3 linked regions of the Homo sapiens genome follow. The protein of the gene in region 1 purifies or fractionates together with the protein of each later gene. This does not show direct contact. Each region holds a gene or a part of one and is shown on either strand. Other genes may lie near its edges.

Region 1 (5,508 bases):
TGCAGAGAGCTCCCTCATCCCTTCTGTCATGTAAAGACACAGTAAAAAAGATGGCTGTCTATGAACCAGGAAGTCAGCCCCACGGAATCTGCTGACAATTTGACCTTGGATTTTACCATCTCCAGAACTGTGAGAAATCAATTTTCTACGCTACCTAGTCTATGGCATTCTGTTTTGACACCCAGATTAGCTAAAGTAGCAGCATATCAACTTGCACACATAATTCTTGGAAACTCTGATGCCAAATCCTTGATGGCAAAAGGTGATTGATCTGCCGGAGACATGAGCCTACATCATCCCTCTTTCCACAATAAACCAGAGAGTCAAAACAGTCAAGAGTAGGTCAAGGTCTTCTAAAAGCCATACCTGAAAGGTTTCCAATAACAGATGACTCGATGGTAATTCAGCCACACAAACAACCACAACAAAAGACACAACTATCAGAGATTTTCAGGATAGCCTCAAAAACACCATCTAACATTAGGGAGTTCAAAAAGGCATGAAGTTTCAGAAATCAAACTTTATTGTAATCTCGTTTCATCAACTTGTAATTCTAACACTATTAATAAATGGTAGGGCAGGTGGTGGCATGGAGAGCCTGGGGCACAACGGCTGTCGTTAAAAGCTTTGTTTGCTTTACCCTTTGGAGCCACCTCCTGGTCCCCTCACCCACTGCCCGCCTGTTAAGGGCCTGTCCCGGGCAGCACATTAGGGGCAAACAGCCTGGATGCCCAGCTGTGGACCCGCATCCATGCCTGGAGGAGGAGGTTGCCTCTGGGAGCAGGCGTAGCTGCTGGAACTCTTCTTCCCAGCCTTCTTTTAATGCTCTCCGGCACCTCCTGCACACAGATAAACCAGGATCAGGAGAATAAACGGACCTGCAGCAGCAGGACTGTGGTTCTAGTGAATGAGAGAAGCCTCTCTCCAGCGAGGTACAGGAGGCCAGGCCAAATGCCCTGCTCTCTGCCTGCATGTTTGCCACCGTGCCCAGGACTAGGGGCAGCATGGGAGCTGCTGGCTGGGGCTGTGCTGGTCACCCCCTCCCTCCCACTTCTCTCTCCAGCCACGCTTTCAGTTCCAGGGTTAGGGCTAGTGGCTACAGTACGTGCCGTGATTTCAGGCAGCTCCTCGTTGGTCTGGTCCTTGGCTGGAGCTCCCTCCAGCTCCAGTGCTCTCTCTGGAGGGGCCTCTTCCCATGCTGGCTCTGGCTCCGCCGCTGGTGCTGGCAGTGCTCTTACTTCTGCACATGGACCAGGAGCTGAGAAAGGAGAAAGGGTCACCAGCCTCAGTCACTTTCCACTGGAATTTCCAAACACAGAAACGACCTCACTGAATTTAAGGGAATTCCAGCCCAAAATCACCGCCCCCGCAAAGTCTTCCAGGCTGCAGGCCACCTCACCAAGTGTCTGTGCCTCAATGAGCTCCTGAATCTCCTGGACAAGGACAGTGTGCAGCTGCAGCCCCAATGGGATCTCTGGTGTGGCCTGGCCTGCTAGGGCCTGCCCCAGGCTGTCCTGTGGTACCTGGATGCGCCTTATTACAACGGGCGACAGGCGTCTGGGGTGAGGGATGAGCCTTCTTCGGCATCGTCGGAAAAGGCTCTCACTCCCTCCATTCCTGAAGCAGCAACCTCTCGAAGTGGGGAAGCAACACGAGAACATCTTGCTCTCTTGAGCGACTCCCACCAAGTGAGCTGTTTACGGCGCTGACTCTAGGATATGGGTGCCTGGTTACCAGAGTTCTAAGTTCTGTTCGTGTGGTCATCATCCAGGAAGTGAGGTCGCTTCTTTACGGTTCTGTCCCCTAGTCCCCTTCCTTCCATAAGACCTACTCAGGACTCCACTGGGCTGCTGACTACTCACCCTCCCCTCAGGTCATCTCCTGACCCGTACACAGTTATGTCCACCCAGGGTCTGCTTGGACACCTGTGCCTGATGTTCACCAGGGGCCAGATGTCGTCCTCAGGCCTGATGTCCACCTGGGGCCTGATGTCTGCCTTGGCCTATGTCCCTCTTGGGGCCTTGTGTTCACCTGGGGACTGTATCCAGCTGGGGCCTGATGGCCTACTGGGTCTTGTTGTTCACCTAAGGCCTTGTGTCCACCTGGGGACTGGTGATCACCTGGGGCCTGGGTGTCCACCTGAGGCCAGAGGTGCACCTAAGGCCTGAGTTTTCACCTGGGCCTGATGATCACCTGGGGACTTGGGTCTAATGTCTACCTGGAGCCTTGGGTCTAATGTCCACCCGGAGCCTACGTATCTACCTAAGGCATGATGTCTACCTGCGGCCTGATGTCCTCATGAGTCTGGTGTTCAACATGGGCCTGCTGTCCACCTAGGGCCTTGGTGTCCATCTGGGGCCTGGTTGTCAACTTGGGGCCTGGTATACACTTTGAGTCCAGGGTCCACCTGGGGACTGACGTCTGCCTGGAGGACTGACGTCCTCCTGAGTGAGGTGGGAGGATCTCTGGAGCTCAAGAGGTTGAGACCACAGTGAGCTGTGATTGTGCCACTGCCCTCCAGTCTGGGTGACAGAGTGAGACCCTGTCTCAAACAAATAAACAAAAAAGCCACACAAATTATATAGCTATACAAAAATATTTTGTTTCTTTTTAACCTTATTCTATGAGCTTTTTTCATTATTTATTTATTTTACTTTTAAACCGTTTGTTGTTAAAAAACAAGACACAACCAGACACTTTCGCCTAAGGCTAAGCAGGGTCAGGATCATCAATTTCACTGTCCTCTACCTCCACATCTTGTCCCACCGGAAGGTCTTCAGGGGCAGTAACAGGCATGGAGCTGTCATCTCCTTGATAAGAATGCCTTCTTCTGGAAACCTCCTGAAGAAACTGCCTGAGGCTGCTTCACAGTTACCTTAAAAAAAAGTAGTAAGCATATACTCTAAAATAACAATAAAAAATATAGGATATTAAATACATAAAACAATAACATCAGCATCTATTATTTTCATCAAGCATTATGCACTGTTGATAATCGTATGTTCACACCCACATCACCACAAACATGTAAGCTCTGTGGTGTCCAATGAATCTGCCTTTCTTTACCTACAACTGTCTTGGTAAATTCTTTTACCACCCATCCCACTGTCCCAGAGAGTCGCTGCTCCCCTACGACACTGAGTAAGGAGGAGATACAGCTGACACCACCTGGAAATATTCCCTGAGGCCAAGCTCAGGCCACAGATTATGGTGAAGCCTCCAACTTCCACACTGTAAGCCACCAGGGGCCTGGTGACCCCTGTGACGAGGCCACAGGGAGCATCTATGGATCAGGCACTTACAGAGGCCCCAGGGTATACCCCAGCACACTGGAGGCCCCTCCCCACACCCACAACCCCAGGCATGTATACAGGATCCACACTCCTGCCCACAAACACCAGGTAATGCATGAGGGGAAGGGAGGCTGCCTTGAGACTAAGCACTGCCTCACTACCTAAAAGCACTCTGTCATCATGAGGGTGAACCAGAGATTGCCTGGACTGGCCGTTTAATCCATCACTTTGGCCCTTGAGTTACTAACATTGTTGCAACTGTCCAAAGTTACTAACTTTGGGTTTTCTGCCCACCTAACTGCCGGAAGCTAAGATGGCAACATCAGTATCAGTCAAATAAAGCAACACGCGTTAACTTAGTGACCACTACACAAGCTCACCAGTACATCCTTCTGGTGCCACCAGGATGCCACTTACTCCTCTACATAAGAGAAAGGATTTTTAAAGTAGAATATGAATTATTGCTTTTTATGGAGATGCCATTATTAAATTTTATAATTGTCCTGCTTTTTCCCAAGTGTGACATATAAACAGTTAAAATTGATTCCAGATCATTAAATCATATGCAATAATTTTTATATACATTATCTGCTGAGTTGAATATTACATAAGTCTTCTCCAACCCATAGGTAATCTTACAAAGACAGAGGCATATTTTTTAAATGACTGAGCTTGATATCAAACAATATAAAGGCTGTTAAGAATGCTGAGATGGATTTGTTTAATAGATGTCAAACCGGCCTTCTTTCACAGGAAGCGCATACGGCCGCTGCACTTGCACCGGACAATTTATTTGTGTGTCCATGGACAAGATGTAAAGAAAAACAATGAATAACATCCAAAGCAGTGAAAACATTGCAGCTGGGCTCTGGAATTCTTAGTAGAAACCATGAAAAGGCAATGAAAACACTTAGAGCAATTGCAGGTTAGAAACTGGGATTCACAGGAGCTTAATGGAGCACATGATGTTAAGTGAAGTGAGCCAGGCACAAAAAGACAACTACCACGTGATCTGACTTATGTGGAATGTAAAACAATTGAACTCATGGAAGCAGAGAGTAGAATGGAGGATACCAGGGGCTGGGAGGCAGGGGTTTGGGGAGACGGTGAAAGCGTTCTAAAGTGTAGTTAGACAGGACAAGATTGCGCCACTGCATTCCAGCCTGGGCGACAGAATGAGACTCCATCTCAAAAAAAAGAAAATATTCTTGGTCAGGTGTGGTAGCTCGGCACCTGTAATCCCAGCTACTCAGGAGGCTGAGGGATGAGAACCCCTTGAACCCGGGAAGTGGAGGTTACAGTGAGCCGAGATCATGCCACTGCACTCCAGCCTGGGCAACAGAGGGAGACTCTGCATCAAAAATTAAAAAAAAAATCATTCTTGAATAAAAACACAACACCTTTAATTCCATGCTATTGTCCTTTATATATTAACTTGTAGAAAACGAAAACATTTATATAATGAAATTTATTATTCTACTTTTGATTAATATGTTCCCCTTATATCATGCAGTTTACTTCTTAATCAGTCTCCATAATCAACTGCATTTTTTTTTTTTTTGAGATGGAGTCTTGCTCTTGTTGCCCAGGCATGAGTGCAATGGCATGATCTCGGCTCACCTCTGCCTCCGGGGTTCAAGCTGTTCTCCTGTCTCAACCTCCTGAGTAGCTAGGATTATAGGCATGCGCCACCACGCCTGGCTAATTTTGTACTTTTAGTAGAGATGGGGTTTCTCCATGTTGGTCAGGCTGGTCTCGAACTCCCGACTTCAGGTGATTCACCCGCCTCGGCTTCCCAAAGTGCTGGGATTACAGGTGTGAGCCACCGCACCCAGCCGTATTTCCTTACAGATATTAAATTTGAAGCATTTGTCTTTTAAGATATCCTTTTGTCAGTTTCACTTACTGATGGCAACTTTCTACGTTGAGTAACATGATTCATCTCTGCTGTCTCGATCTGATCTCGTGATCCACCCACCTCAGCCTCCCAAAGTGCTGGGATTACAGGCATGAGCCACCGCACCCAGCCAATTTAATTTTTCTTAAACTGTAATTTCTATAATTTTATTCCTGTCAACGTTTTATAGGGAAGTTTTAAAACACACAGAAAAGTTGAAATTGTTAACATCCAGATACATACCCGCTAGATATGTACCGACTAGATTCTGCAATTGCCAGTGTTTTTCTCATCACATTTCTCTCCATATGCATCAAT
Region 2 (7,080 bases), on another chromosome or scaffold:
TGAGCTGTAACACTCACCACAAAGGTCTGTAGCTTCACTCCTGAGCCAGCGAGACCACGAACTCACCAGAAGGAAGAAACTCCAAACACATCCGAACATCAGAAGAAACAAACTCCAGACGCACCACCTTAAGAGCTGTAACACTCACTGTGAGGGTCCATGGCTTCATTCTTGAAGTCAGTGAGACCAAGAACCCACCAATTCCGGACACACAACCGGCCATGTGACAGGCTCAGGGAAGGACATGTGACTCAAGGCAGGCCAGTGAAGTGCAATTCTAGGTTAGACTGGCCGGGAAGGAGCGGCCGTGTTTTCTGTTGATGGATGCTGCTGCCCTCTCCTCAACCTCTCACGCTCTGCACTACAGACAACCTCCTTGGGGCTGAGGCCAGCACAGCGCAAAGCACAGCAAGAGGGGAGCCCGAGCCCCTGGATCCAGCCATCCTCCACGGCAAGCTCAGACCACCCGCTCCCTCAGCTCTTTCACAGAACCCTGGTCTACCTAGTTGATGTCTTATATAATTCCACTATTATCTGTGATTAATTAATGTGGAACCACATGATTATCTGTGTGACCTGGTCTGAGGTCTCCCCTAGACTGAGCACCCCCTCTGGACGGCAGGTGAGCATCTGACCGGTCCACAGCTGTGGCCCCCACACAGCAGCTGGCACACACAGGGGCTCTGCATGTTAGACTCCTGCAGTAACACCCAGGGGCATGGGTGCGCCTTACTCCTCTCTGGGATCCCGGAGCCCAGCACAGCGTCAGCCAGGCACAGCAGAGAGAACAGGAGGTGCAGGCTGAGACAGGGCAGTGCAGTGCCTAAGAGTCTGGGCTGTGGAGTCTGAGAGCTCTGGTTCCAATCCCAGCGTGGGGCCCTTAGGCAAGGTGTCTCTCCTCCCTGAAAGCAGTCTCACCAGCCAGAGACAGTGTTGGCCCTGCCTTATGGGCTGTTGTGAGGGTGAGATGAATTGACTCCAAGTACTTGGCACCCAGGAAGTGTCCATTGCTGTGGGGCATGGCGTGACTGGAAGGAGGAGCCCCAGCCAGCGACCTGGAGTGGTCTGCCCAAGGTCAAGGCCCCAGTACAGCAGAAGCAAGAGCTCTAGAGCTGTCAAAGACCTTTATTCAGTCCTGGAGTGGAGCTGGCCTGACAGGGTGAAGCCAGGGGCTGCTTAGGGCGGGCCAGACCCTCAGCCCCTGAGCAGGTCAGGCCGGCCAGGCGGGGCTGGTAGGTACCAGGTGCCAGCAGCTGCAGGGCAAACTCAGTGATGACAGCTGTGAGGCCCCAGACCCGGTGTGGTCCATGCAGGAAGACGGGTAGTGTGTAGCGGAAGTGGCCACCCCGGCAGAAGTGGGTATAGCCCTGATTCTGCGTCTGCAGCAGGTGGGCCAGCGGCAGTGCAAACACCTCATCTACCTGCAGGCAGGAGGCAGAGAGGGTAGACAGAGGACTGGAACAGCCCAACCCCCTCATATCCCCCAGCTCACCTCCTCCGAGTTGGGCCTGAGGCTCTGGGGATCCAGTGGGCCTACACCAGCAAGCACTGGCACCACGGTGGCCTTTTGCTGGGGAAGAGGGCAGGTGGTCAGGGAAGCATGGCCTTCGCTGGGTTTGAAGGCTGGGGAGGGGAGTGTGAGAGGAAGACCCCTTTGCCATGCATAGGCCTTTGGTAGTCATGTTCGGGTCCACCTGCCTGTGTCCTCCAGCCATGCTGACTGACTCAGGTCCCCTCAAATGCACTAGACCTGTTCCCTCTGCTTAGGACAATCTCCCACTTGGCATTCAAGCCTGGGTTCAATCCCTGCCTACCCCATGAAGCTTCCCTGACCCTAATCCACCAAACTGAGTGGAGCTGGCCCACCCCATCGCCCTGGGCCACCTCTACTCAGGACACCAGAGCCTCCCCAATCCCTTCCCGAGGGGGTGTGTGGGGTGGTGCATGTGACCAGGCAGGTTAGGGGCACCCTTCCACACTTTGTGCCCGTGGGGGTCCATGACCACTCTCCTGGTCCCTGGTAGCCCAGCTCCAGGGCAGGCACAGAGTGAGTGAATGGGGTGGGGTGGCCTCAGCCAAGTGGCTTACCGGATCATACACAGGCCGCAGCAGGCCCCACACGTGCTCCTCGGGCACTGCCAGGCCCAGCTCCTCCCGGGTTTCCCGCAGGGCCGTGTGCACCACATCTTGGTCAGCCGGGTCGCACTTGCCGCCTGGGAAACTAAACAGACACAAGGAGTCTGGTCCTTGGACTCTTGGGGCCACGGAGAGGTCGGGGTATCGGCAGTGCGGGGGGGGCCACTGGCCCACCGAAGTGTCGCCTGCCTCTGCCCCTAGTTTACTGGGAGGCCCCAGGCAAGCCATGCGACCTCTGGAGGCCAGTTTACCTCCCTGAGCAATGGGGATAAGGAAGAGAGGCCCGGGACAGCGCAGGATAAGAGGGTCTGCAGCAGGGGCAAGAAGATCCTGGGGCTCAGATACCCAAATTCGGCCTATGGTGGCCCCAGCAACACTGACATTGTCCTCAGGATGTTCTTAATTCCCGCCGGGCGGGGCCCGAACCTCTCCGTAGTCGCCGGCAGGGGGCGGCGTCCGCCCTCTAAGCGGGAAACAGCTCAAAGGGGTGTCCCGGCCCAGGCGTGCGCGCAAGGACGCGTACGAGGGGCCCACGCGGCGAGGACGTGGCGCCCCGGCAGGTGCACCGGGGCCGACGGACACGGATCGCTGACCTCTCGCTGCAGCCCTTGGGCGGAGGGACTCTCCCCAGACCCATTTTACGGAGGCGGAAACCGAGGCTCGAAGGGGCTAAGTGCCCTGCCAGAGGTCCCTGCCAGCCCCGGGCTCCTGTAGCCTCCGGCAAAGGGCGAGGAGTTCCCGGCCGCTGTACCTGACGTCGCCCTTGTGCCTCCCGGTCAGGCGGCTGGACCGCAGCGTGTACAGCAGCGCCGGGACCCCACGCACTGAGCAGAGCGGCACGAGCACCGCGGCCGACGCGGGCCGCGCGCGGAGCCGGGCCGTGGCCCCTGCCAGCAGCCGGCGGCAGCGCAGCTCGCCCTCGGCCGACAGGCAGTCGGGCAGCATGTCAAGTCCTGCGCGGCCGGGACACTGAGGGCGCGGGATCGGGCGAGGGAAGAGGCGGGGCGAGGCGGGGCGGGGCGCTCAGCCCGGGTCCCTCCGAAAGCTGAGAGGGAGAAGGGGCAGCCCGCGCGACGCGTCCCGCCTGGGGGGCTGCAGAGCGGCAGCGGCGTCGGGGGGCCTCAGTGGGGTGGGTCTGTTCGTGGGCGGGGCCTTCCCGGAGACGGGGCCTCGGTGGGACTGGGTCTGTTCGGGGGCGGGGCCTGTTTGAAGGCGGGTCCTCGGTGGGACGGGGTCCGTTAGGGGGCGGGGCCTGTTTGAAGGCGGGGCCTCGGTGGGACGCGTTGAGTCCCCCGGATGGGAGGGACGGAGGGCGGCGGGGCGGGGCGGGGCGGGGCCTGCGCGGGAGCCGGACTCGGACGTTACTGCCAAAGGGCGGCGGGGCCTAGTAGGCAATCGAGGTTGGGGCGGGCTGGGGGCGGGGCCTGGACCGGAGCTTTTGCTACGAAGGACTGGGGGGCGTGGCCAGGAGGACTGTGCTTCCGGCAGGGCCGGGCCGTGGCCGGGGGTGTGGCCGCGGGGAGGGAGATGGGCGCGGAGCTGCAGGACCTGCCGGTTGTGTTCTCCGAGATCCTGAAACCACGCGAACCGTGAAGCGCCCGGCGACCGTCCTCGGTCCCGTTGGGTCCTGGCGTTGGGGTGTCTGATGAGGCCCCGCCGGCCCCCACTGGTCCGTCCCTCCCCTAGGGGCTCCAGGATGTACGGAGCCGGGATCCCACGGGGACGCCCCTCCAGGAACCCGAGGTCGATCGGTGCGCGAGAGGAGCGTCCGGCCCAGCCCTCCCTCCGGTCCTCCCTCCCGATACCGCTGGGTGGCGCGCGCCGCCCCCAGTCTTGTCTTCCCCTCTGGCTCCGTCGGACTCCAGCCCCAGGCCTTTGACCTCCTTGTCCCAGCGTCCAGAGCTCTTCTCCCTTCCTGCCTTGAGTCTTGACCGGATTCCCAAATCCCTCCCCCTTTCCTACCTCGGCCCCTGTGGTCACTGACCACCGTGGTTCTGCGCCCTTCCACCAGACCCTGGGCTTGGGGACCAGATGACCCCAGCCTTGCGCACAGCATTTAAACGTGGGGTGGCGGGTGTCCGCCATGCTCTGCTGTGTGACGTTGAGCAGGTCCCGCGCCTCTCTGAGCGCCAGTTTCGATCCTCATCTGGGCAAGTGCAGCCCTGCCACTGGGCTGGAGTCACCACTTTTAATATTACTGTGTGCTCCCAGGGATGCGGACGGCACTGGGCAGAGCTTCGGGATGCCTACAGGGCTGATGTGGGGACTATGATGGGTCTGGGAGTTCCTGAGGCCCCCACCCACCCTGACCACGACGACAGAAGTGCTCTGACCACTCATGCCAAATAGTTTAATGTTAGGGGGAAGGGAGAGGTAAGGCAGGGTTTTCGGGAGTTACCCCCAAAGCAAGAGGGCACAGTATTCAGGCTGCTGGGGTTGGGAGATAGAAGTCCTGGTTCCAAGCTTGCCATGGTCCCAGCCTTGCTGTGACCCTGGGCAGGTAGCCTCTTTCTCTAGACTTTCACCTACCCTGCTCTCCTTGAGACAGAGATGGGGCTGGAGGGGGCGGGGCAGAGGCTGATTCCCACACCCGGTGTAAGGTCCAGGGTAGCAGGGCTTCCCCCCAGGGCTTCTGGCATCACTGGGAGTCCTGGCCAGGCCCCAGGCACACCACAGTGGGGGACAGGAGCCCCAGCCCAGCTGGGAGAGGCAGGCCTCCTTGATCCCTATCAGCCCGGATGTTGGGGAGGGGGTATGGTGCTGGTCGGGTCCTTGGGATCCCTAGGTGGCTCGGGGCTCCAGAGTACAGGCTCTGATACGTGACAGGCCTGTAGGTGGCCGGGGCCAGCAGGACCTCAGGTGGGGGCAGCAGCTGATGATGGAGCCAAGCAGGGGTCTTGGAGGTGGAAGCTGAAGCTTTGTTGGGGTCTGAGGGAGGAAATGAGTGGACTCTGGGCCTCCCATCGCATCCTCATCCCTCATCCCAGGCCTGCCCTGGTCCCTTCCTGCTCCTCCTTCCCAAGTTACCTACCTCTCAGCCTTCGCCTTTGCTTTTCCCTCTGCCTGGAATTTCTTCTTCACCTTCTCCCTCTGTCCAAACCCTTCCCAGTCCTCCAAGGCCCAGCTTGAGAGCCACCTCCTGCAGGAAGCCTGCCTGGCACCCCCTGCCTGTGCTCTTTGCCCTGAGCCCCATATTGTCTTAGGCATGTCTGCTTCCCCCTCCGTGTGTCCACACAGGGGCCCTGTGGGTTCGCTGAGCTGCTGAAGCCCCTTCCTGGAGGTCCTGTCCCTTTGCCTTCCGCCCACTGTGTACACCTTAGTCCCACTATGTCTGCAGGCCTGGGGCCTTACCTTTCTCCCTGTCTGTGGCACCCTTCAGCACACAGGGACTGAGGCTGCTGTGACTCCGGGCTGGGACACTGAGCAGGGGCCGTGGGGCCACAGGCCTGAAAGAGCAAGCGAGAATGGGGGGAGGGGATCAAGGGGAAGAACCCAGGCCAGGGATCATGGCCAGCTTCAGATGGTGGGGCCCCAGGATGGGTCAGAGGGTGTGACCCTGAAACAAGGGTCAGGAACTGAGGCCTTAGGATATGCCTGGGGTGGGGGTGAGGGGCTAGGGTCAGGGTCAGACAGTACCAGGAGTCCAGGTCACTCTCTCTAAAGCCTTTGGCAAAAGGGTTGCTGGCGATTTTCAGCTGGGTGATCTGCAGGAGACAAAGTGCAGTTGTGGGCTGGCCATGAGCCAGGCTCAGCCACCTTGTCCTCCCGGGAACCGGCAGTCAGGAGGCCCTGGCACCTGGGCCTCTTGGCCCAGGAACTCTGAGCTGATAGGAGTGCGGGCAGGGCCTTGACTGATGGCAGATACTCAGGGCAAGTTGGGAGGGCAGTAGTCTGTGCCAGTGAGGGCTGCAAGCCTCAGGGCTCAGTCTCCACCCCTGTGAAATGGGCCTGCAGCGGGTGCTCCCGAGCTGGTTCACCCACCCTGTGGTTCTGATAGGCTGTCACTGCTGTGAACTGGGTCTCTGTGAAGATGAAGGACTTGAAGTTCTCCTGGGCATAGCGCTCACTGTCCTTGCGTGGGTCCACGAAGACCACGTGGAAACGGGGCTGGTAGCGGTGCATAGAGTTGAGAATGATCTGTGGAAGGGACAGAGCAGGGGTACAGGGGTGAGGCGGAGTACAGCGGACTCCCTGAGGCTGGAGTCCTTCCCTCCAAGCCGGGAGACTGCCCTGGGCCTGCCACCCTGTTCCTTTCATGGCAGCACAGGGTCTGAGCTGGAGAGGCTGCAGTTCCGTGTCAAAGGCCCCTTTGGATCATGGATCCTTGCCTCCATGTCCTCTCACACCCCACATCCCAGCTGCCACCCACTGCCTGTGTGCTGGCCCGTCACTGTCGCGTTCACCAGTTTCCTCGGTTGCCTCCTGGCCTGTCCCCTGTCCCCGCCTTACCCCTCTGTTCCTTCTCCACACAGCTGCCCGGGAAGCCACATCATATGCCCCCTGCTCCTAACCGTCCAGCGACTTCCACCCCACACGGTAAAAGCCAGAGCCCCCCGAAGTCAGCCCGACCCCTCAGGCATTCGCCTCCTTGGCTTCCCCTCCTGGCTCCACTCCGGCCCCATGGATGCGTCTTGCAATTCTGCCGGCCCAGGATTCTCTGGCCTCAGGGCCTTTGCACCTACTGTCCCCTCTGACGGGCATGGGCCGCTGCATCCTCCACCTCCTTCAGGTCTTCAGCTCCCTGCGCCCCCTGAGAGCAGCAGCACCCTTTCTCCGCCCCCCTTCCGTACCTCTGCTTCCTCTTTGGCATTTGTCCCTATCTGAGACGCTGGGGACAGTGTCTTCTGGACCCTGCCTTTGCCCCAGGAAGTGACCTCTGTGAGGGCAGGGATCGTTGGCTGTTTGACCAAGTGTTAATGATGCTGTGTCCACACATAAAGCGGG
Region 3 (7,790 bases), on another chromosome or scaffold:
TTGTCACTACTGGGGAGATACCAGTGGCATCTAGTAGGTGGAGGCCAAGGATGCTGCTAAAATCCTGCAGTGCACAGGAAAGCCCCCTCAACAAAAAAATTATCCCACCCAAAATGCCACAATGCTGAGGTTGCAAAGCCTTGTCAATAAGGAACCAGGTTATAGCAGGTGTACCCTTGCCATTGACCACAGGAACCAGGTGGGCAATGGGAATGAGTCAAACAGGATTAATGCAAAGGGGGGAAAAGGTAGTTTTTATCATCCACTTTTCCCATACTCAGGTTCTTGTTTTATTGTTGTGTATATAGTATCTCATGTTAGTCTTTCACCACAGACATGCTTTGTTTGCATGTCTAATGGGTGTATCTTTTACTACCACAATTGTTTCCATGACGGAGCACTGGCATACATAAATAGACCAACAGACATATAGACTTATGCATATATGTACTGAGTTGCATTGTGGAAGTGTGAACAGGTTTAATATAAAATGTATTGTTACAATGTCAGCTGTGGTCAAAAAAGTTTGGGAAACATTGTCAAGGTTCTTACTATGTCACAGCCACCTCTGCATGAGGAAGCTATCAGGTTGAAACTTCTAAAAATAAACATGTCAAGAACCCCTCTTTACAAATATTAGCACTAAATAAGTAGCAAATAATGCCCCACAATAAGAAAAACATATATTTATGAAAAGAGACTTTTCAACAATGCTTAACCCTGCCCAACAGTGGAAAGACCATGTTGGAAGGCAGTGAGTTCCTCATCAGTGATTAGAACCTATGGAGGAAAGCCCCAGACAGTTTCTAACTCTTGAAAATGTGTGTTTCTATCACGGAGCTTTAAGTTACAAAATTACTTTCTAAATAGAAATGAATCCATTTCTGTCTAGCTTAATATTTAGTTGTTATAATTGTTCTTTTTTTGATCAGTTACAAATGAACTCTTGATGAACAAAAGAATATGCAATGCAATGTGGAAAACCAAACAGCTATTTTAAAGTCCCACATTGAAATACTGTATAATGTCAGCTCAACTCTCACTCATTCTGGGAGGGGGGAAGAAAACAGGAAATAAGGCAGCTTTCAAAAATGTCTAAACTCTGCTCCTCTCTGCAGGATCTGAGTGGTTTTTTGACGCTGTGGCAGGGCATAATCGTGGGGAAGAAATAGGTCTGACATCAGTTTATGACGGTACAGAGCCAGAGAAAGAAGCAACCCAGGTCCAATCATTCAGCAGAATCATCTCTCAAGGTGCCCTGGGGCCTCATGCAGAGGGTTAACAAGGACAGAAAGTCTCTAGACCTGGGTCTGTTCATCCAACTTCCATATATCTGATGGCCATGGTCCAGGGTACACCCAAAAATACAATCTACCACATTCACTGTACCTCCTTTCAATGCTCAAAGGGGCAAGTCAAGCAACGTGCTATACTGTTACATTAATACAAAACTGTATTTAGGTATGGGAATTACTAAATCCAAAGGTAAGTCATCCAAATATAAGTCATGCATCCATCCAAAGAAGATTCAAAGGAAACGCAATCAAAAAAGAAAATATGCAGAAAATAGCAATAAATATCATTATTCTAAGATTTGTTATTGTAACATCCCTGAAGAAGCAATGCCATTCTATATTTTACTACAAAGTGGTTAATGTTTAGTCATTCAATAAAAATGCAACTCCATTCTGTCATCAGATCTCAAATCAGCATCACACACTTTCTTTTATTACAACAACTACAATGTGTCAAGTGCTCTAAACACAAAGTATCTTCCCATGTATCACCCACACCTTTTAGTTATGATCCTTAACAGATCCTGTGGATCCCTGTGGAGTAAATTCGCCATGTGATAACCCCCCACTAGCAGAGAACGAAAGACTCACAAAGGAACCTGAAACTTAAACCAAACTGAACCGCTGTGTACTAGATCTGAAGGCTCTGCCTCATCCACTGTATCGTGCTGCCTCCCCAAGGTGAGCTTTTCTAACCTGCATACTAGCCAGCTTTTCAAGCTTGCTACTGAGATAAAAAAAAAGGGGGCGGGGGGAAATGTGCTGGAAACAGACAAACAAACAAACAAAGAAAAACAAACTTGGTTTTTCTAGGCTTGAATCGGCAATGGGGGGAAAAAAAGTACCCTAGGAACAACCTTCTTGAGCCCATTAAAACATACAGAGATGACTGGCTTTTTATGACTGAGTGGCTTTTATTTGTGGCTGTGATCTCAGGGGAAGCCAATTTGCTGTGTCCTATTCCTTGACTTATACTGGACCCCAACTCCTGGCTAAGGGAACTTTGAGTCACCAAGGGAATCTGAAAATATACTAAGGGATAAATCAACAGTAATTAAATAGTTCAGTAGCGAAAAGCCCACTGAGGCATATAGAAAAAAGCAATGTAACAGCATTTCACTAGTTGACTTAGAAAAATTAGGCCTGTTATCCAAACTGCTACAACTTGCCTTATCAAAATTCAACCAGGAAACAGAGGAAACCTGAAGTCAGTCCGAAACATACGAATGCGTCAACTTTGTTTTTTTTTTTCAGCACATCATTACACATCATCCATTTGGTAAATGGCAGAGGGAGGGGAGGAGAGCCCTCCTCACCAAAGGTTCCAAGGGCAGCAGGGAGGATTAAGGCTCGGGCGCCCCAAACACAACACAACCTAGAAAGTGACGTGTCGAGGGGAATCACAAATAAAGTGCCACCAGCGGCGTTTGCGGCCAGGAAGAAAAAAGTACGCTAAAATTTAATTATAAGTTTAAGCAACTCTCTACGACATGGAACGTGCGTTTGCTTTGAGCTCCACGGAATCGTTTCCAAGCCAAAGCAAACCATCCTGGCGGTCAGAGGCCGAGATAACGGGAAGGCGGCCAGTCGTACCAATCAGCAGCGCTCAAGTCTCGTTAGCGCAGACCTGCTGCCCGCGGCCAGGCCGGGCAGCTGTTGATCCCCGGGCCATTCTTTTAAAGCCCAGGCAGAGCGCGGGTGGGAAGCGTGCGAGGAGAGCTGAGCCAGGGAGTTGCGGGGAGGAGAAGGTAAGAATGTCCCAGAGAAAAAGTCGGAGAGGGCTGCAAACTGGCTGGTCCGGCTGGCGGGGCTCGGCGCGGCGGAAGCGGGAGGAGAGGGGAAGGAAGGGGAGGGGAGGGGAGGGGAGGGGGCCAGCGCCTCAAAGTTCCGCGTCCCGGCGGCGCCGGCGCTAGGGCTGCTCACCTAACAGGAGCGTGGTCCAGGTCCGGCCGCGCCCCGCGCGCCGCAGGCCCAGCGCCCAGCGCAGCCGGGCGGCCAGGCGCCCCCCAAGGCCGCCCCCGGCGGGCGGCGCGCCGGGCTCGGCGCGGGGCCCCTTCCTGCCCGCGGCGCCCTTGCGCCCCGGGGACAGGGGCGCGCGCTCGGGCCCCGGCTCCCCGGCGCCGACGTCCGACGCCCCCCTCAGCGGCGACTGTGAGGCGCGGGGTGGCTGGGGCGGCTTGGGAGCCGCCTCCCGGTGCTTGTTCCGCGCCTGCAGGACCATCTTGGCATAGTCGCGCCCGCTCGCTGCGCGCGCCCGGACGGCGGCCAGAGAACGGCGGGCTGGCTGGGCGGCTGGGCGCAGCTCACTCTCCAGCGGGCGGGCGGGCGGAGGGTGGAGGGCGGGCTCGTCCCTCCCCGCGGGCCGGGAGGCGGGGAGATCGTGGAGGCCGGGCGGCTGCTGCCTGGCTGGCAGTACCGCCGGGAGGCGGCGCCGGACTTGCTAGCCCGCCGCCGTTGCCGCCGCTCCGGTTGTCACGGCGACCGCGGAACGCCGGGGGGCGGGGGCGGGGACACCCTGCGAGCGGCCGCGGCCCCGCCCCCGCCGCCCCTCTGCGCCGGACGCGCGCTCCAGGCCGGCCAGCGCGCACGCGCGGACTTCCGGCGCAGGCGGGGCCCGACCCCTCTGGCGCCCGGCTACCCACACCTCTTCGGCGCCCGCGCGGGGCTCGGCCGGTGCGAGGACGCGGGGGCGGACGGCCTTCCGGAGGCGGCCGCCCTTCCATTGTGGGAGTGATGGGGCCGAAGGAAGAGCCCTCTCGGGATCGGGGCGCTGATTCAAGTTTCGGAGCCTGTTAAGGCTGCGCTTGGAGCCCGCGCAGGCGAGACGCGGCGGGGCAGGGAGAAGGCGCCCGGAGCGGCCACTTAGGGGCGCTGTGCGTGCGCCCTGGGCGCCTGGTCGGCCCCACCGATGTGAAGCGCGCGGGTGGCAATCAAGTCACCGTCTCCGTTTACTCCCCGCAGTGTGGTCGCGCAACTTGGAGCGCAGCCCCTCACTCACCGACAAGAAGAACGGGTGCGACCCGATTTAAGATAGTAACAGAGTATTAAAATAGCAGCCTGGAATCTCATGGGGAGCTGATAAGGGACGAGGCACAAGTGTAAACTGAAGACCAGGGTAGGAGCCAGGCTGAAGGTGATAGGATGGATTGGCTGGAGCAGGAAAGATCATCAATAAGTACATTCAGTTTGTTACACTTGCTGTAACCTTGTTGCTTAATAGGAAGCAGGAAAACTTGGCGTTGATAAGATAGGAGATTTTAGTCGAAAATATGTTTTCTTTTACATAGCAGAATGCACGAGTAAATTAAACCCGGGAAAATTTAGAAACCCAGGTAGATCCCAATTCTCCCTCCACCCCTGCATTCTTTGCACACAGTCTTACAACAGCATGGATTACAACTGGGAGGTTCCTTTCCTGGCCGTGCCCAGTGGCTTGTTCCAAAAAGTTGTCTTTAAGTCCCAATGTTGTAAATCAAGGCCCATCGTTCTGCTTATCTCTATTGTAATTCCAGGGACTTCACGTGGCTTTCTCGCTCTTTGTTTCTTTGCCCAGTGATTTCTTTACTAATACCAGCATTCGTTCATTGTTAGCCTTTTTAAGAGACAGTGGATTATTTTGTAAAGGGAGGGTGTTTGCCATGCTAATTAATACTCCCTCATACCCTGTCTAGTTTATGAATTTGGATTTTCCAATGTCTTTATTGGAGCAAAGAACAACTATTTTTATACACTGGTTTAAAAAATAATGGTTGAAAGTAGGATGCAGAAGGCTTGGATTCTGAAACATTGTGTCAGCTGAACTCAATGCTACCTCTGGGATTAATGTTGAATGTATTCAGTTAAAAGAAAGCTAATTCAATGCCTATTAAAGATAATACGAATAACTGGCCGGGCACCGTGGCTCACGCCTGTAATCCCAACACTCTGGGAGGCCGAGGCGGGCAGATCACGAGGCCAAGAGTTCAAGACCAGCCTGGCCAAGATGGTGAACCTCTGTTTCTAATAAAAATACAAAAATTAGCCAGGCGTGGTAGCAGGCGCCTGTAGTCCCAGCTACTTGGGAGGCTGAGGCAGAAGAATCGCCTGAACCCGGGAGGCGGAGGTTGCAGTGAGCTGAGATACGCCACTGCACTCCAGCCTGGGCGACAGAGCGAGACTCCATCTCAAAAAAATAAATAAATAAAAATAATACAAATGATGGATTTTTTTTAATGATTAGAAAGACGCATGGAAAAAGAGGTTCAACATTTGAATTATTAGATTGCTGTGTGTCTACTTTATGTGATAGGCCCTGAATTCAGGAACTGCCTCCCTTAAGCTGGTACCGTTTGTACCAGGAAAACACTTGTTGAATGAGTGAGTGAATGAATGCAGTTCCACAAGTGCTTGTCAGTTCCCCTTCTCGGCTTGGCAACCATGCGGAGAGGGGCAGTGTGAGGTATTAGTTTTTTGGTTTTTTTGTTTTGTTTGTTTTTTTCTTAAACACGGTCAATTTAGATCCAGTTTGCAGCCACTACATTGACCCATACCAGCCTTGACCAAGGTATTATACCTCTTTGAGTCTGGATTTCTTCATTCTTAAAATGGAGGCAACAAAAACATCTAGTTCACAGGTTTGTAAAAAATAAGACAATGTGTGTAAAGCATCTAACAATTACATATATCCAAGTAGTTGCTCAGTGAATGTTCAAATTGTCTGGATGTTGGTAGTTGCTCAATAAGTGTTCAAAGTAGTGGATGACGTTTAAGGAGAGTGGCAAACTTCTGTCCTCCCAGAACCTGAAGTTGACATTCCAAGTTGGGGTATAGCAAGGGGAGAATGCCACTCTGAGCGGGAGAGCAAGAACAGCCACGTGATCTTTAAGCCAGGCCTGCTGGGCTTCAAGCTTCTCAGCTCTCTGGGCAGTTGATGTGCCTGAATGGTTTCCTGCTTTCCACAGATGCTTTACAAATGTTGCCCATCTCATGGGTCCTTAGGCCTGGATAAAATAGTAGGCAACTCCTCGTGCCCCCTCCCAAAAGGGAGGCATTTCACACAGGAAGGGTGGAGGAATGGAAACCAGAACAGTCATGGAAGATTATGTGCCAGATTTCATTTTATCCTTAGTACAACGAGATCCACAAGAGCAGAGAATGGGAATGCAGTTAATTTCTATATGTATCTGTAGACCAGTGCCTGCCACACATAGCGGTGGATGCTAAAAAACAAAAAATCTCTGGCAAACTGAAAGCTGCATATTAAAAAAACATTTTGTACATGGATGATCTATGAACGGATCTAAGATTATAATGAAATTAAGCATTAAAATTACCAGCTTTAATGTGCTTTTTTTCTGGGAGTTCCAGATGCACCAGAAAGGTACTTCCTGCATGATGCTATAGAAATACTGGGTCAGGGCAGACAGATTTTTAAGGACAGGAACCTGAAAGGGCAACCACTTATAAAGAATTGCTGCTGCCCTGGCCCCTGGGGTGCAAGCCGAGTCTTTTTCTCACTACAAGTTACACTTTGGGCATTGAAATAAAAATGTTTAATTAAAAAGACATATCTTTTAAACTTTGGGGATGGAGACAGAGGAGATTATAAGGAGGAAATGAGCATAAAATAAAAAGCAAGAACATAAAATCATAGAAGAAAACAAGATGTGGAGAAATAAAGCTTAGTGATAATAAGGTATAGGAATCAGGGAAACATTGTCAGATGGGCAATGAAAAAAGTAAATTTGGTCAAGGGAAGACTATGTTGGGAACCAGTTTTCTTATGTCTCCACATTGGCATTTTAAAGGCCCCATTTAGAACTTCTAAATATTCCCCTTTTCCTCCTACTTGCTCTCCTACCCATAGAGTGACAGCTGAATGAGAAATCCATGACATTTATTTGTCATTTCCTTGAACTAGGTCACTTGATCACTGTATTGGAAAAGTGTCCTAGGGTCAAGTTCTAGAATCTGACATTTGTCTTGCTAAGCAGTTGCTCATTCCAAGAGAGGAACCTGCATAATTCCAGCACACTTCTTGGAAACCTAAAATGGGTGCAACAAAATATGTCTGTAACATTCTACTTTCCAAAGCTCCAGCATTAACTTGACACTATATTATAATATATTCTTTTAGTCTGATGAGAACAAATGTAAATTGCTACTCTATTGCTCTTCACATTTTATCTTCTGTCTTTCCTGGAGCTGACCTTGTAATTTAAACTGTTCATGCTCCAATGAGTGTTCCTGAGGAACTCAGAGTTCATTATTAGGTCTAGTTATAGTGCATCATCAAGAACCACTCTGTTGCAGAGAGGCATGTCTCTTTAGAATGTAATTCCTGTTGTTGAGGGCTTACTGTGTCTTTAGTAGATATTAGAGACACTTAAAATTCATATACTAAATCCCCATCCCCAAGGGCTTACAGTTTCATTGGACAGGCAGGGTAAGCTAGAAAAACATATATAGCAAAATATGTGATTCAGAGAATAAGTACTAAAAGATTTCCAAAGGGAA

Evidence for each region. Proteins that work in one complex are often made in the same cells at the same time.
Region 2: the proteins of CDRT15 (region 1) and NUDT8 purify together in Homo sapiens (affinity purification with mass spectrometry; 3 studies listed by BioGRID and IntAct, with this or other methods). This does not show direct contact.
Region 3: the proteins of CDRT15 (region 1) and DPY19L1 purify together in Homo sapiens (affinity purification with mass spectrometry; 3 studies listed by BioGRID and IntAct, with this or other methods). This does not show direct contact.

What each region holds. Positions count from the first base shown.
Region 1 is NC_000017.11:14,235,173-14,240,680, forward strand, and holds CDRT15 (CMT1A duplicated region transcript 15 protein), read right to left. Parts: upstream 1,691-5,508; 5' UTR 1,662-1,690; coding exon 1,400-1,661; intron 1,259-1,399; coding exon 1,110-1,258; intron 840-1,109; coding exon 684-839; 3' UTR 501-683; downstream 1-500.
Region 2 is NC_000011.10:67,626,831-67,633,910, forward strand, and holds NUDT8 (mitochondrial coenzyme A diphosphatase NUDT8), read right to left. Parts: upstream 3,108-7,080; 5' UTR 3,082-3,107; coding exon 2,888-3,081; intron 2,222-2,887; coding exon 2,089-2,221; intron 1,571-2,088; coding exon 1,493-1,570; coding exon of another isoform or gene 1,475-1,492; exon of another isoform or gene 1,422-1,474; coding exon 1,116-1,421; 3' UTR 1,108-1,115; downstream 1-1,107. Other genes in the region: T-box transcription factor TBX10, read right to left, coding at 4,775-5,064, 5,488-5,582, 5,773-5,840, 6,118-6,273. UniProt on the Homo sapiens protein: Acyl-CoA diphosphatase that mediates the hydrolysis of a wide range of CoA and CoA esters yielding 3',5'-ADP and the corresponding 4'-phosphopantetheine derivative as products.
Region 3 is NC_000007.14:35,033,879-35,041,668, forward strand, and holds the start of DPY19L1 (protein C-mannosyl-transferase DPY19L1), read right to left. Parts: upstream 3,608-7,790; 5' UTR 3,517-3,607; coding exon 3,219-3,516; intron 3,044-3,218; exon of another isoform or gene 2,908-3,043; intron 1-2,907. UniProt on the Homo sapiens protein: C-mannosyltransferase that mediates the C-mannosylation tryptophan residues on target proteins.